Linked DNA regions of Homo sapiens. The protein of the gene in region 1 interacts with the protein of each later gene in a pairwise test. Each region holds a gene or a part of one and is shown in the gene's direction. Other genes may lie near its edges. The genes, in order: L3MBTL3, ASB6 and TTC19.

What was found.
Region 2: the proteins of L3MBTL3 (region 1) and ASB6 interact in binary tests that used the Homo sapiens proteins (3 or more experiments, as listed by UniProt).
Region 3: the proteins of L3MBTL3 (region 1) and TTC19 interact in binary tests that used the Homo sapiens proteins (3 or more experiments, as listed by UniProt).

What each region holds. Positions count from the first base shown.
Region 1 is NC_000006.12:130,063,445-130,067,193, forward strand, and holds part of L3MBTL3 (lethal(3)malignant brain tumor-like protein 3), read left to right. Parts: intron 1-2,908; coding exon 2,909-3,044; intron 3,045-3,749. UniProt on the Homo sapiens protein: Is a negative regulator of Notch target genes expression, required for RBPJ-mediated transcriptional repression. It recruits KDM1A to Notch-responsive elements and promotes KDM1A-mediated H3K4me demethylation.
Region 2 is NC_000009.12:129,640,632-129,644,380, reverse strand, and holds the start of ASB6 (ankyrin repeat and SOCS box protein 6), read left to right. Parts: upstream 1-2,229; 5' UTR 2,230-2,381; coding exon 2,382-2,494; intron 2,495-3,658; coding exon 3,659-3,749. UniProt on the Homo sapiens protein: Probable substrate-recognition component of a SCF-like ECS (Elongin-Cullin-SOCS-box protein) E3 ubiquitin-protein ligase complex which mediates the ubiquitination and subsequent proteasomal degradation of target proteins.
Region 3 is NC_000017.11:16,002,687-16,006,435, forward strand, and holds part of TTC19 (tetratricopeptide repeat protein 19, mitochondrial isoform 1 precursor), read left to right. Parts: intron 1-106; coding exon 107-145; intron 146-1,144; coding exon 1,145-1,201; intron 1,202-1,514; coding exon 1,515-1,576; intron 1,577-3,749. UniProt on the Homo sapiens protein: Required for the preservation of the structural and functional integrity of mitochondrial respiratory complex III by allowing the physiological turnover of the Rieske protein UQCRFS1.

The sequences.
Region 1 (3,749 bases):
TTTTGTTGGTCCATTTTCATTATTCGCAGTAGTTACGCTCCACAAATTACCTTGTGTGGAACCATTGCTCTTAGGGGAAATAGAGGGTTAGCTTCCTGTGAGCCTCTGGTCACATTTTTGTCTACTGATCAGTGTGTAACCTTGTTTTATGTGTGTTTCTGTTTAAAGACACCTCATTTAATGTATATCGTTCATTCATTAAAAATTGAACTCACAAGTAAGAGCACTATCACTCCTGCCTGATGAAGCTTATCTAGCACAAGTATCTTCTCTGTAAGGCAACATCACAACCTTTTGGCACTTAGGGACACTAAACAACACCTCAGCACTATGTCAGGGGCCATTTTAAACAGTAACATCACCCAAGAAAAGCACAAAAATGTAGAATATGTGGCACTAAATGGACCACACAAAAGACACTTATTCCCAGTACGAGAACTGAAACAGGAAGGTAAAGCTCCTTCTTGATTGACTTCAGCTGGGAACATGCATGTTGAGTGACTCAAAAGTGTTGTCAGTCTGTGCATGTCCACGAACACTGCGAGTATTATTTTGGGGTTACAAATAAATTGTAGCAAGTAGATGACTTCACAAACGTGGAATACAGTATGTGAATAATGAAGACTGGCGGTATGTCATTTTTTCCTTCCCATCACCATTTACTAGACTTGGTTAGGTGGAGACAAGATGGATACCTGAAATGATAGAATGTCACCAGGCAAATATTTTGCAAAGGATATCAGGGCAGAAATTTTAAAATGTTGGCAAGAAAATGTTTTTTAAATGATTGCTAGGAAAGGAAGGCTTGGGGTGAGGAGAGCTGCTAGGGAGGAAGTAAAAGGATCAGTGTGAGACTAGAGTTTCTGTTGAGATTGAGGAAGAGGCATCTGGGGGTAACTGGGTTTGCAGACTGGAATAGGAGTATGTGTCCCAGGGTTGGATTTTTAAATTTAATACTAAGAAGCAGAGCAGTTCTTGTTGGGGACTAGATTCATGGGAGTGAGGGCTTGAAGTAGAGAGGAAGGGAGTCAAAATGCCAGGGTATTGGATAAGTCATCCATATGGATGACGAAAGTACTCAGATGGAAAGGAAGAGAATAAGCCAGGGCTAAGTGTTTGGGTGGTTAGCATGGGGGAAGAAGAGGAGGAGAGTTGCTTCAGCCATATGGCTCGAGCCTCGGCAGGGGAGAACTGGCCTAGGATCCATGGTGTGGTGGGAGGCAGCAACCCGTCCTGTGTCTATGGGAGGTAGAGTTGGGAACATGAGCACCCTTGGGGAAAGGCTTGAGAAGGACGAGCTAGGTATGACTGTGGGCAAGGAGGGTGAGGATGTAGGAGATTGTTTCTCAAAGCATAGCTTTCCGGTGAGCCTGAGATAGAGACTATGGGGAGAACAGAGAGAGCTTGGCTCAAGGGAGCAGAAGCTCAGAACGGTGTGCCCACAAGGAACTAGAGGCTGTAAATTACTATAGGGCTGAGCTCTTAGGATCGGCCAGATATAGCTGACTGTGAGAGAGAGGAGAGAAGCAGCCTTCTTTGCATGGGGTGGCTGTAGGGAGTGGGGGTAGCTCCTGCTTTACCTGAGAGATTGTATTTCCCAGGGATTCCAGTCTCAGCTGTATGGAGAGACTCTGTTCTCTCTGGGGGGAGTCAGCTTAGTTGTAAATTTGATGTATGTGGTATATCAATACATTCTAATTGAAAAAATGCTGATACATAAAAGAAAATATGAAAAGTCCATCATTCCCATTTTGCCCCTTCCTTTTCACTACCACTTCCTAGAAGAAATCATTATTAACATTTTGGCAAATATACCTCCGGACTTCTTTTTACTATGTGTTTACATATGTATGCATATGTGTGTATATTAATGTATGTATATAAATGCATATACTTATGTATATACACATAATACACATATGTATACATAATCATATACCCATAAATACATGTGGACCCCCACATGTCTAATTTTCTCATAAACTTAACTCATTCTGTGTTATGTGTTCTACCACTTGAATTTTAACTATATGTTTTAGAGAACTTTCCATGACAGTAACTGTACAGCTACCTCACTATTTGAGGATTAATTGCCCTGGCTCTGCACTCTGGTCTAAGTTCATCATTCAGGGTTCTGCAGGACAGACACTCCTGGAGCGGGTAGAGGTCTGGCGTGATACGTGTTTCTACTTGAACACATCTTCTTGTGTTAGTGGGAAGAAGTCTCAGGGGCTGAACCCTCTCTCTAAGAATCCAGGGCAGGGTATGATCCAACTCAGGTCTCGTAAGCCTATATGACCTTCTAAATCAGAATGTCTCTAAGTGGGGCCCTGTAGGCATATGTATGGCATGTGTTATACAGAGTACATTCTTACTAGCATTCTTAGGAGCCTGTCTCATCCAAGTAATAAACTAGGAGAGACGCTTTTCTTTCTTTCTTCCAACCCAGCTTTGGTGGAGAAAAAAAGCTTGACTTCTGTGCATATGCACCAGCTGTGGTCTGCAGCCTTCAGTGCAGGGCAGACTGTCCACTCTGGGGCCATGCTAGAGCTGAGTGTGCTGTGCTGGTGTGCCTTCCAGCTTACCCTGGGGACACATCTTGGTACAACATAGGGAGTGGAGAAAGGACCTGCAATTGTGGGATATTATGCTTTGCCCCCTATCCGTGTGGTTGTAATGTAACTGAGAATGTTGCCAGAATGCCACAGCTCAGCTCTTCCCACTTTAATAGCTTTTGTCTTTAGATTCTGGTTATTTGTTTAGTTGTTTTATTACTGTTAATGTGGGTGGTTTGATTAACATTAAGACTATATCATGCCTGGTGTCCATGTTTATTTTTGTGTATATATATATATATATGAATATTCTGAGTTAAAAAAAATAATTCAACCTATTTTACCTGTTTCAGGTTTGTGGATACCGGATAAAGCTTCACTTTGATGGGTATTCTGATTGCTATGACTTCTGGGTGAATGCAGACGCTCTGGATATCCACCCAGTTGGGTGGTGTGAGAAAACCGGCCACAAACTCCATCCTCCAAAAGGTTTTGTCACTTTTTGTTTGATATTTTAAATTCAGTAAAAACTCATTTTCTTACATGCTACATTAGAATTGTTAAGAATTCAGACTTTATGAAAATTCAGATAGGCACAAATTTAACCTTATTGTTTATGATGAAACCATGTTTATTAAAGTTAAAGAAATAAAAGCAGAATCCAGCCTAGGAAAATAAAGTATGTTCATATGCTTATTTTCATGTAAAATAACATTTGCATGATACTCAACTTTGACTACAAATAATGTTTACCTGCAAATTTCTATTATTAAATACATACATCTTTGAAAAAACTGATTTGAAAAATTAGTTTAAATTAGTTTATATAACTAAGTTTAGTGTTAACTGGTTTAAACTAATTTTTCAAATCAGTTTTTCATTATATAGAAAATCCTGAGAAATTATGCTTGACCGTATAGATCTTAATATTTAGGAGATTGGCAAGAAGACTGTAACACTAAAAATTGGCTTAGGTGGGGGGTTGAACTCATAGCAATTACTTTTCTTATATTTGAGTACTTTATATTATAGTCCCCCAGTGATTTTCCTATTTCATGTTTATATCAAAGTTCAAGAATAACAGATATCGTCTTTTTCACTGTCTGCCTAAAGTATTCCCTAATTTTTTTTTGAGACGGAGTCTTGCTGTGTCGCCCAGGTTGCAGTGCAGTGGTGTGATATTGGCTCACTGCA
Region 2 (3,749 bases), on another chromosome or scaffold:
GTACTTTGGGAGGCTGAGGCGGGTGGATCACCTGAGGTCAGGAGTTCGAGAATAGCCTGGCCAACATGGTGAAACCCCGTCTCTACTAAAAATACAAAAATTAGCCTGGCGTGGTAGCGCATGCCTGTAATTCCAGCTACCTGGTAGGCTTGAACCCAGGGGTTGGAGGTTGCAGTGAGCCGAGATCCTGCCACTGCACTCCAGCTTAGGCAACAGAGTGAGACTCCGTCTGAAAAATAATAATAATAATAATAATAAATAAATAAATATAAAAATGTTTACTCTAAGACCCATCGGATTGTCTTGAAATGCGCCTTTAAATGTTTTTTTCCTGGGCTGGGCAACTCTCGCTGTCTGGCAGGTTCCAGGGAGAGGGGCCCAACTTGGCAGAGCAAGGCCCAGGAGGCCAACGCTGTGATGTGGACTGCTGGGGCGGGAAACCCCTCTTCATCATCAGCTTCCCAGAAGCAAGAAGGCATCAAGGCCCCCCCACGCAGACTCCAGGTGGGAGAGGAGGCTCAAATGCATGGCCCAAGGGGAGGTGCCTCGACTCCAGAAAAGTGGTTTTTCCAAGGCAAGCTGGAAATGTCCATTTCCATGTGAGCAGAATTTCCCGATTTCACCCAGGGAGAAATTTCTTTCCTACAGCGAGAACCAAGGCAGAAACGTGCTGGCAGCTGTGGACTCTGCGGCCTGGAGCTGCTTCTAGGAAGCCCAAGCTGGTGTTGCCCTAAAGGGGCTTAAACCCGGCTGCCCACTCCGCCCCTTCTTCCTGAACCAGAGGGTTTTGGCTCCTTCCCACTGAATTCCACTTCCACCAACAATTACAGTGCGCTGGCTCCAGCATCTCAGGTGAGTGTGATTATACTTTTTTTTTTTCTTTTTGAGACAGAGTTTCGTTCTTATTGCCCAGGCTGGAGTGTGATGGTGCGATCTCCACTCACTGCAACCTCCGCCTCCCGGGTTCAAGCAATTCTCCTGCCTCAGCCTCCCAAGTAGCTGGGATTACAGGCGCCTGCCACCACGCCCGGGTAATTTTTGTATTTTTAGTAGAGACAGGGTTTCATCATATTGGCCAGGCCGGTCTGCAGCTTCGAACTTCTGACCTCAGGTGATCCACCTGCCTCGGCCTCTCAAAGTGCTGGGGATTCTACCCATTTTACAGATGAGGAAATCCAAGTTCAGAGACAGGCGGTAGCACACTCCTGTGTTCCCAGCTTCTCGGGAGGCTGAGGCGGGAGGATCACCTGAGCCCAGGGGTTCAAAGCTGCAGTGAGTCATGATCACTACACTACACTCCAGCCTGGGAGACAGAGTGAGACCCTGTCTCTAAAAAATACACAAGATTCGGGCTGGGCACCGTGGCTCATGCCTGTAATCCCAGCACTTTGGGAGGCCGAGGTGGGAGGATCACGAGGTCAGGAGTTCGAGACCAGCCTGGCCAATATGGTGAAACCCTGTCTCTACTAAAAATACAAGAATAAGCTGGGCGTGGTGGCCAGCGCCTGTAATCCCAGCTACTCGGGAGGCTGAGGCAGGAGAATCGCTTGAACCCGGGAGGCGGAGGTTGCAGTGAGCCGAGATCGTGCCATTGCACTCCAGCCTGGGCAACAGAGCGAGACTACGTCCCCCAAAAAAACAAAAACAACAACAACAAAAAACAAGATTCACTGAGTCCATCAAGGCAGAGGTGGAGAGGGCTAGCAGCCGTCCTGGCCAGGTGCTCCCCGGGACAGAGAATAAGAAACTGAGGAGGGGACGTGCGAGTACCCTGGTCCTCATCATTCCAGTCAGCGGGCCGGGTGGTGACAGAGGTGGCCCAGCCCCTCTTCAGGGAAGGCGAGGGCCAGCCCGAACCGGAAGGGGCAGTGTCTGATGACCACAGCTCTCAGGGGCGCCCAGGGCCAGTGGGGCAGCGGCAGGGCCGAGAGCACGACCGGCGGAACTCGGACGGCGCCCAGCGGTCGCGGGCGGGATCGCAGGGCGAAGCCGAGCCGGGCCGGGCCCTGGCAGGAAGGGGCGGACCCGCCTGAGTCTCGGATCTGGCTTGGCTCGATCCTCCACTCTCCCACTCCGCTGGGGCCGCCCACTGGACATCGCCCGAGTCGGCCTGGCGGTCGTGCCCCAGGACGCGCCGAGGTCCTCCGAGCCCGCAGGGGGCGCTGTCGCCATATGGCCCACCCTGAGTCGGCGCGGGCAGGAAGTACGAGGGTCACTTCCGGCGGGGGCGCGGCTTGGACTGAGGAGCGGACCCGGCCGGGCGCAGGGGCTGGACTGGCGGAGCAGGTGGGGTCCGCGGCCGCCGGAGCGTTCCGGTCGGCGTCTGGGCATCTCGGCCTCGGCAGAAAGCGCGACGGCCCTGCTGCGCGGGGCCCGCGGCGATGCCGTTCCTGCACGGCTTCCGGAGGATCATCTTCGAGTACCAGCCGCTGGTGGATGCGATTCTGGGCTCCCTGGGGATCCAGGACCCCGAGCGGCAGGAGTCTCTGGACCGGTAACTCACCCCCTCCCGTGAGCTGGCCGAGGCCGCTCCGACCCCGCAGCGTCCCACTTTATCACCACAAGCCGGGCGGGGTGGATGCGTCCCCCTTGACAGAGGAAGGGACGGGCGGAAGCCGGGGTTGCGTGGCTCGGAGTGCGCGCTGCCCCGCGCGGATCCCACTCCTGCCCCTTGCATGGCGGAGACGAAGGGCGGGGAGGGCCCGAGGGCGGAGGCCCGCGGGTTGTCGCAGGGCCTGCGCCTCAGCCCCACCCTGTCGCCTGCCTGTCCTGTGCCACCCCCCGGCGTGGCAGAGGAGCAGGGTGGAATCCGTGAGGCCTCAGATGTTACCCCAGAGCAGTGTGAAGGTGGGCTTTTGTAGCAGAGTTTGCGTTTTTATAGACAAGAGCTGGTCTGTCGTGGACCTGCAGGAAAGGGGTCGGGAGCGAATCTGCATTCACTGCCCATGGTACTAGGCACCTGGGGTCCATCAGTGGCTCAGCAAAACCCCCGCCTTCTTGGCGCATGTGCTCCAGAGGAGAGACTGACAAGTAATTGTACGGCGGCACGCGAGGTGGAAGGGAGGGGAGAGCAGAAGGAAGGGGCTCGGCTCAGGTGTTGAGGGGGTTGTCAGTTGGTATTTCCAACACGTGGTAATGATGAGTCTCGCCATCCAGGGACTCTGGTGGAAACGTAGGCTTTCTTCATCAATATCAGCTGAAGGTCTCAATGTGAGGGGAGGGAGGAGGCTGTGTTGCTGTCCTGGCTGCAGGTGTTGCCGGGGCTGGGGTCCTGCGGGTTTGAGGATGGAAGGGCTTTCTGAGGAAGAAGCATCAAAGTCGGGCTTGGGCTCTTGGCCTCCAGGCTGGTGGTCCCTTCAGTCCCAGCAGCCCAGGTGTGTGAGGCTTTGTACCTAAGTCTGCGACCGGACTCTGGGCAACGCGGGAGGAGAGCGCAGACAGACCCAGCCCATTCTCCGCAAATCCCAGTCTGCTCCCGTATTAAGAGATGCAGCGTGGCCCTCTCTCTACTTCAGAGCTTCCCCCAAGCCCCTGTGACCCACAGAGCCAGGGCCCTGCTTGCTGATGATGATAGCAGGACTAAAGCCCACCAACCCACAGGCTGCGCGGTCACCCGGTCCCACAGCTGTGCCTACCCTCAGCCTCTCTCCTGTCCCAGGCCCAGTTATGTCGCCAGCGAGGAGAGCCGAATCCTTGTTCTCACTGAGCTGCTGGAGAGGAAAGCCCACTCTCCCTTTTACCAGGAAGGC
Region 3 (3,749 bases), on another chromosome or scaffold:
CTATTTTTTAAATTTTGAGGGTGAAAGCAAAAGGGAATTTTAAAGTTTTGAAATAAGTAGGAACACAGTATTCTAAACTGAAAAACAATTTGTAATTTGCTTTCAGATGGCCAACTTAGCATTTATACGGGGTCAGCTTGAAAATGTAAGTAAATTGCTTTGTAATATCTTGAATTTATGAAGGAGTAGCTTCAAGGGAACTGTAATAGTAAGAGTACAGGCTAAGCTGCTATAACAAAGAGACCCTAGAATATAGTGACTCAAACAAGATAAAAGTGTATTTCTCTTTATTGTGTTAGTCCAGAGATAGGCTAAAGACTGAAGGCAGACAGACATAGGCACCTTTGCTCTCTGATCCAGAAGTCCAGGTTTCTTCTAAGATAAGCCCTCCTCTGCCTAGGTGAGCTGACTCACCTCCAGTCTGCAGGAAGGGGGAGAAGATGGACTGTGAGCAGCTTCCTTATAAAACATGATTAGAAGTTCACGTTCTTTCTGCCTGCATCCCTTGGCCTAAATTTTATCATATGACCATATCTAACTTAAGGGTGTCCAATCTGCTAAAATTGACTGAATTTTTTTTTTAAGATAAGGTCTTGCTCTGTTGCCCAGGTTGGAGTGCGGTGGCTTAATCATGGCTGACTGCAACCTCGACCTGCCAGGCTCAGTTGATCCTCTCACCTCAGCCTCCTGAGTAGCTGGGATTCCAGGCGTGTGCCACAACACTTGGCTAATTTTCTTATTTATTTATTTATTTATTTATTTATTTATTGTAGAGACGGGATTTCACCATATTTCCCAGGCTAAATCGAGGGGACTCTGTAATCAAAAAGATGGAGAAGAGAATGACTATTAGGAGACAGTTTGTAGTCTCTGCCACAGTGGGTTTGGATAAGAACTTAATCTCTGAGGTTGTTTTCTACTCATCAGAGAGTAGTTTAAGGTACACAGAGGATGTTGAGGGTCCTGATATTTTGATCTGTTTTCGCTTCAAAAGGGTACTTTTCTGTGTGTGAGTGTGCGTGTGTGTGGGTATATGGGTTTTACAAGGAATGTTGCATCAGACTGGCACTTAGAATCCAGGGTCATATATATATATATAAAATGGGGCCCAATTAAAAGAAAAATCTTTTCCTTATGCTTTTAGGCTGAACAACTTTTTAAAGCAACAATGAGTTACCTCCTTGGAGGGGGCATGAAGCAGGTAAGGACATTGCCTAGTATTGGCCCCTCACTGAAGCAGTTTTCAAAACAGTCTTGTCTCCTGAAAACTCCTCCTAGCCCCACCACATGCTTTGGTCAGGAAAGGTGGAGTTTCCCTTCTGAGATCTCTATACAAATTGCCATTCTTTCACTAAATGCAACAGCATGCTTGCCAAGGAATTCACAGTTGGCTCATCACTCTAAAAGAATAAAGACTGTGGCTTTGAGGCCACCGTCAGTCTGGAAGTTGATCTGAAATATGCCATGAAAAAATTTACTTGTTATGAGTTCCCTTCATTCTCTTTCTCTCACAGGAGGACAATGCAATAATTGAAATTTCCCTAAAGCTGGCCAGTATCTATGCTGCGCAGAACAGGTAAGTACAGCAGCCAGGGAGTAGGACTGTGGGCAGGAAACTTTGACTCTGGGATGTTACATAATATTCATTGTCTACTGGTCATCTGGGTCTCCCAGAAATTGGGTGTCACACTCAAAGTGTTCCATCCCTCATCTTTGAAATTGTCAGTCTTTTTCCAGTTTGCCCCTACTGTTTCCATCAGCCTGCCTAGTGGGGCACACAACATCTCTGGCTGCCCTGTGACAAAACTAACTAAGTTTTCTGTTGCTGCTTGAAGTGGGAAGGGAAGTTAGAGTTAGAACTTTAGTTTAACTTTTCCTAGAAGAGGAAAGAGCAGTGTGAAAGCTGCTGGGGATAATATATTAATACTCTGAAGAAGCCATTTTGCTGGTATAAATAGAGTTCAAAGATGAAGCATCTAGGTTGTAAGCAGAGAACTCCTCTAGAGAGTTGTATTTGGGATGAATTTAGGGAGAGACCTAAGACTAGCTTCCCTTCAGGTTTTAGTGGTGCAGAAGTTGGTGCGAGAGGTTTGGAGTGACATGGAGCCTGATGCTGTAGAAAGGGTGCTCACTGAGGCCAGGCCCTGGCACTGTTCCCTACTGTCCTACTCACCAGCTCCTTTGTTCTCATCAGGACCTGCATAGTCTCCTTGCATTTTGATTGGACACTAGATAGGCTAGAGCTTCCTGGAGCCTTTGACTTCAAGTCTTTTGAGGAGCTTTGAGCTTGGCCCATGCCAGGGAACACTGCAGCTTGGTCAATCTTTCTTGGAGTTGTAACAAACATGCCTAGTTCTTGATTGGGTATGAATCCCTAGGGTAAGAAGAAGCCCAGAGCCTAATAAACATTGTTGAGTAAGACAAATTCATAGTCTTCTAGAGGTGAAAGCTAGTAACAATTAGCCTCTGAGTTACATGGTACTCTGTACTTTTCATTTTGTTTTATTAAGAGAAGCATGAGACTAGAAAAGACATGGCCAGATCTGAGGCTTCGAAAGGCTGATATAGGTTATGAGGGGAATTGTTTGTAGACCTCTTGCTCCGACTGGGAGCGTCTTCTGGGCAGTGTCCACTTGCCCTGTGTTATGGCTAGAGAGGGCCCTCTTGCCAAGTTTTGAGCGTAGGGAAGGAAGGGGATGCTTCTGTTCTTCTGAGAACAGAGCAGAACAGTAGGGTCATAAGTTCTCCCCTGGCAAAGCACTAGAGAACAGGTGAGCTTTTTAGTGCCACTTCTGTAAGAAACTAGAGCCAAAACTGAAGAAAAGAACCAAAGCTGAGCTCCTAAATGGAGAAGGGATTTCTGTCACATTTCCTCTGCATCTCTGTAAAAAGCAGCAGTCAGTCGGCCTGCTTGGGTTGACTCAACCCTCTCCAGTTGATTGAGGGTCCAGGGCTACAGAGTTGGGTTAAATGACTTCTATTGCCATAGCTAGGAGTCCCATTTCTGCAAAAGAAACTTTTATCAGAGACTTATAGCTTGAAAGAAATATAAAATGACTAAAGCTCCTCAGAAGCTGTATGAGGTCAACAGTTGGAATCCTCACTGTAGGGCGGCCTGAACTGTTTAGGGTAGTATTACTTTGAACAGGGGTAAGGCTTTCACACATGGAGAAGTTGATTCACTGGAGGCCATCTGTTAGTGGGAGATGATGAATACTGCTGGCTATGTCAGTTATTAAAATTAGGGCAGCATTCCTAGCTTTTTGTGTCCTAAGTTATATTAAATGGATGACTTAAAAAAACTGCTTTGAGAAATGGCAGATTTGACACTACTTAGACTTTAAGCAAAGTTCCCTCTTCCCATTTTACACTTCCTTTACTGATAATGTTTAAACTGAGCTGGAAAAATGAAGATAAAAAGAATTTGTGAAAAGGTAAATGGGCCGGGCGCAGTGGCTCACGCCTGTAATCCCACCACTTTGGGAGGCCGAGGTGGGTGGATCACTTAAGGTCAGGAGTTCCAGACCAGCCTGGCCAACATGGTGAAACTCTGTCTTTACCAAAAATACAAAAATTAGCTGGGCATAGTGGCGGGCACCTGTAATCCCAGCTATTCGAGAGGCTAAGGCAGGAGAATCGCTTGAACCCCGGAGGTGGAGGTTGCTCTGAGCCGAGGTCACGCCATTGCACTCCAGCCTGGGCAACAAGAGCGAAACTCCATCTCAACAGAAGGAAGAAAAAAAAAAGAA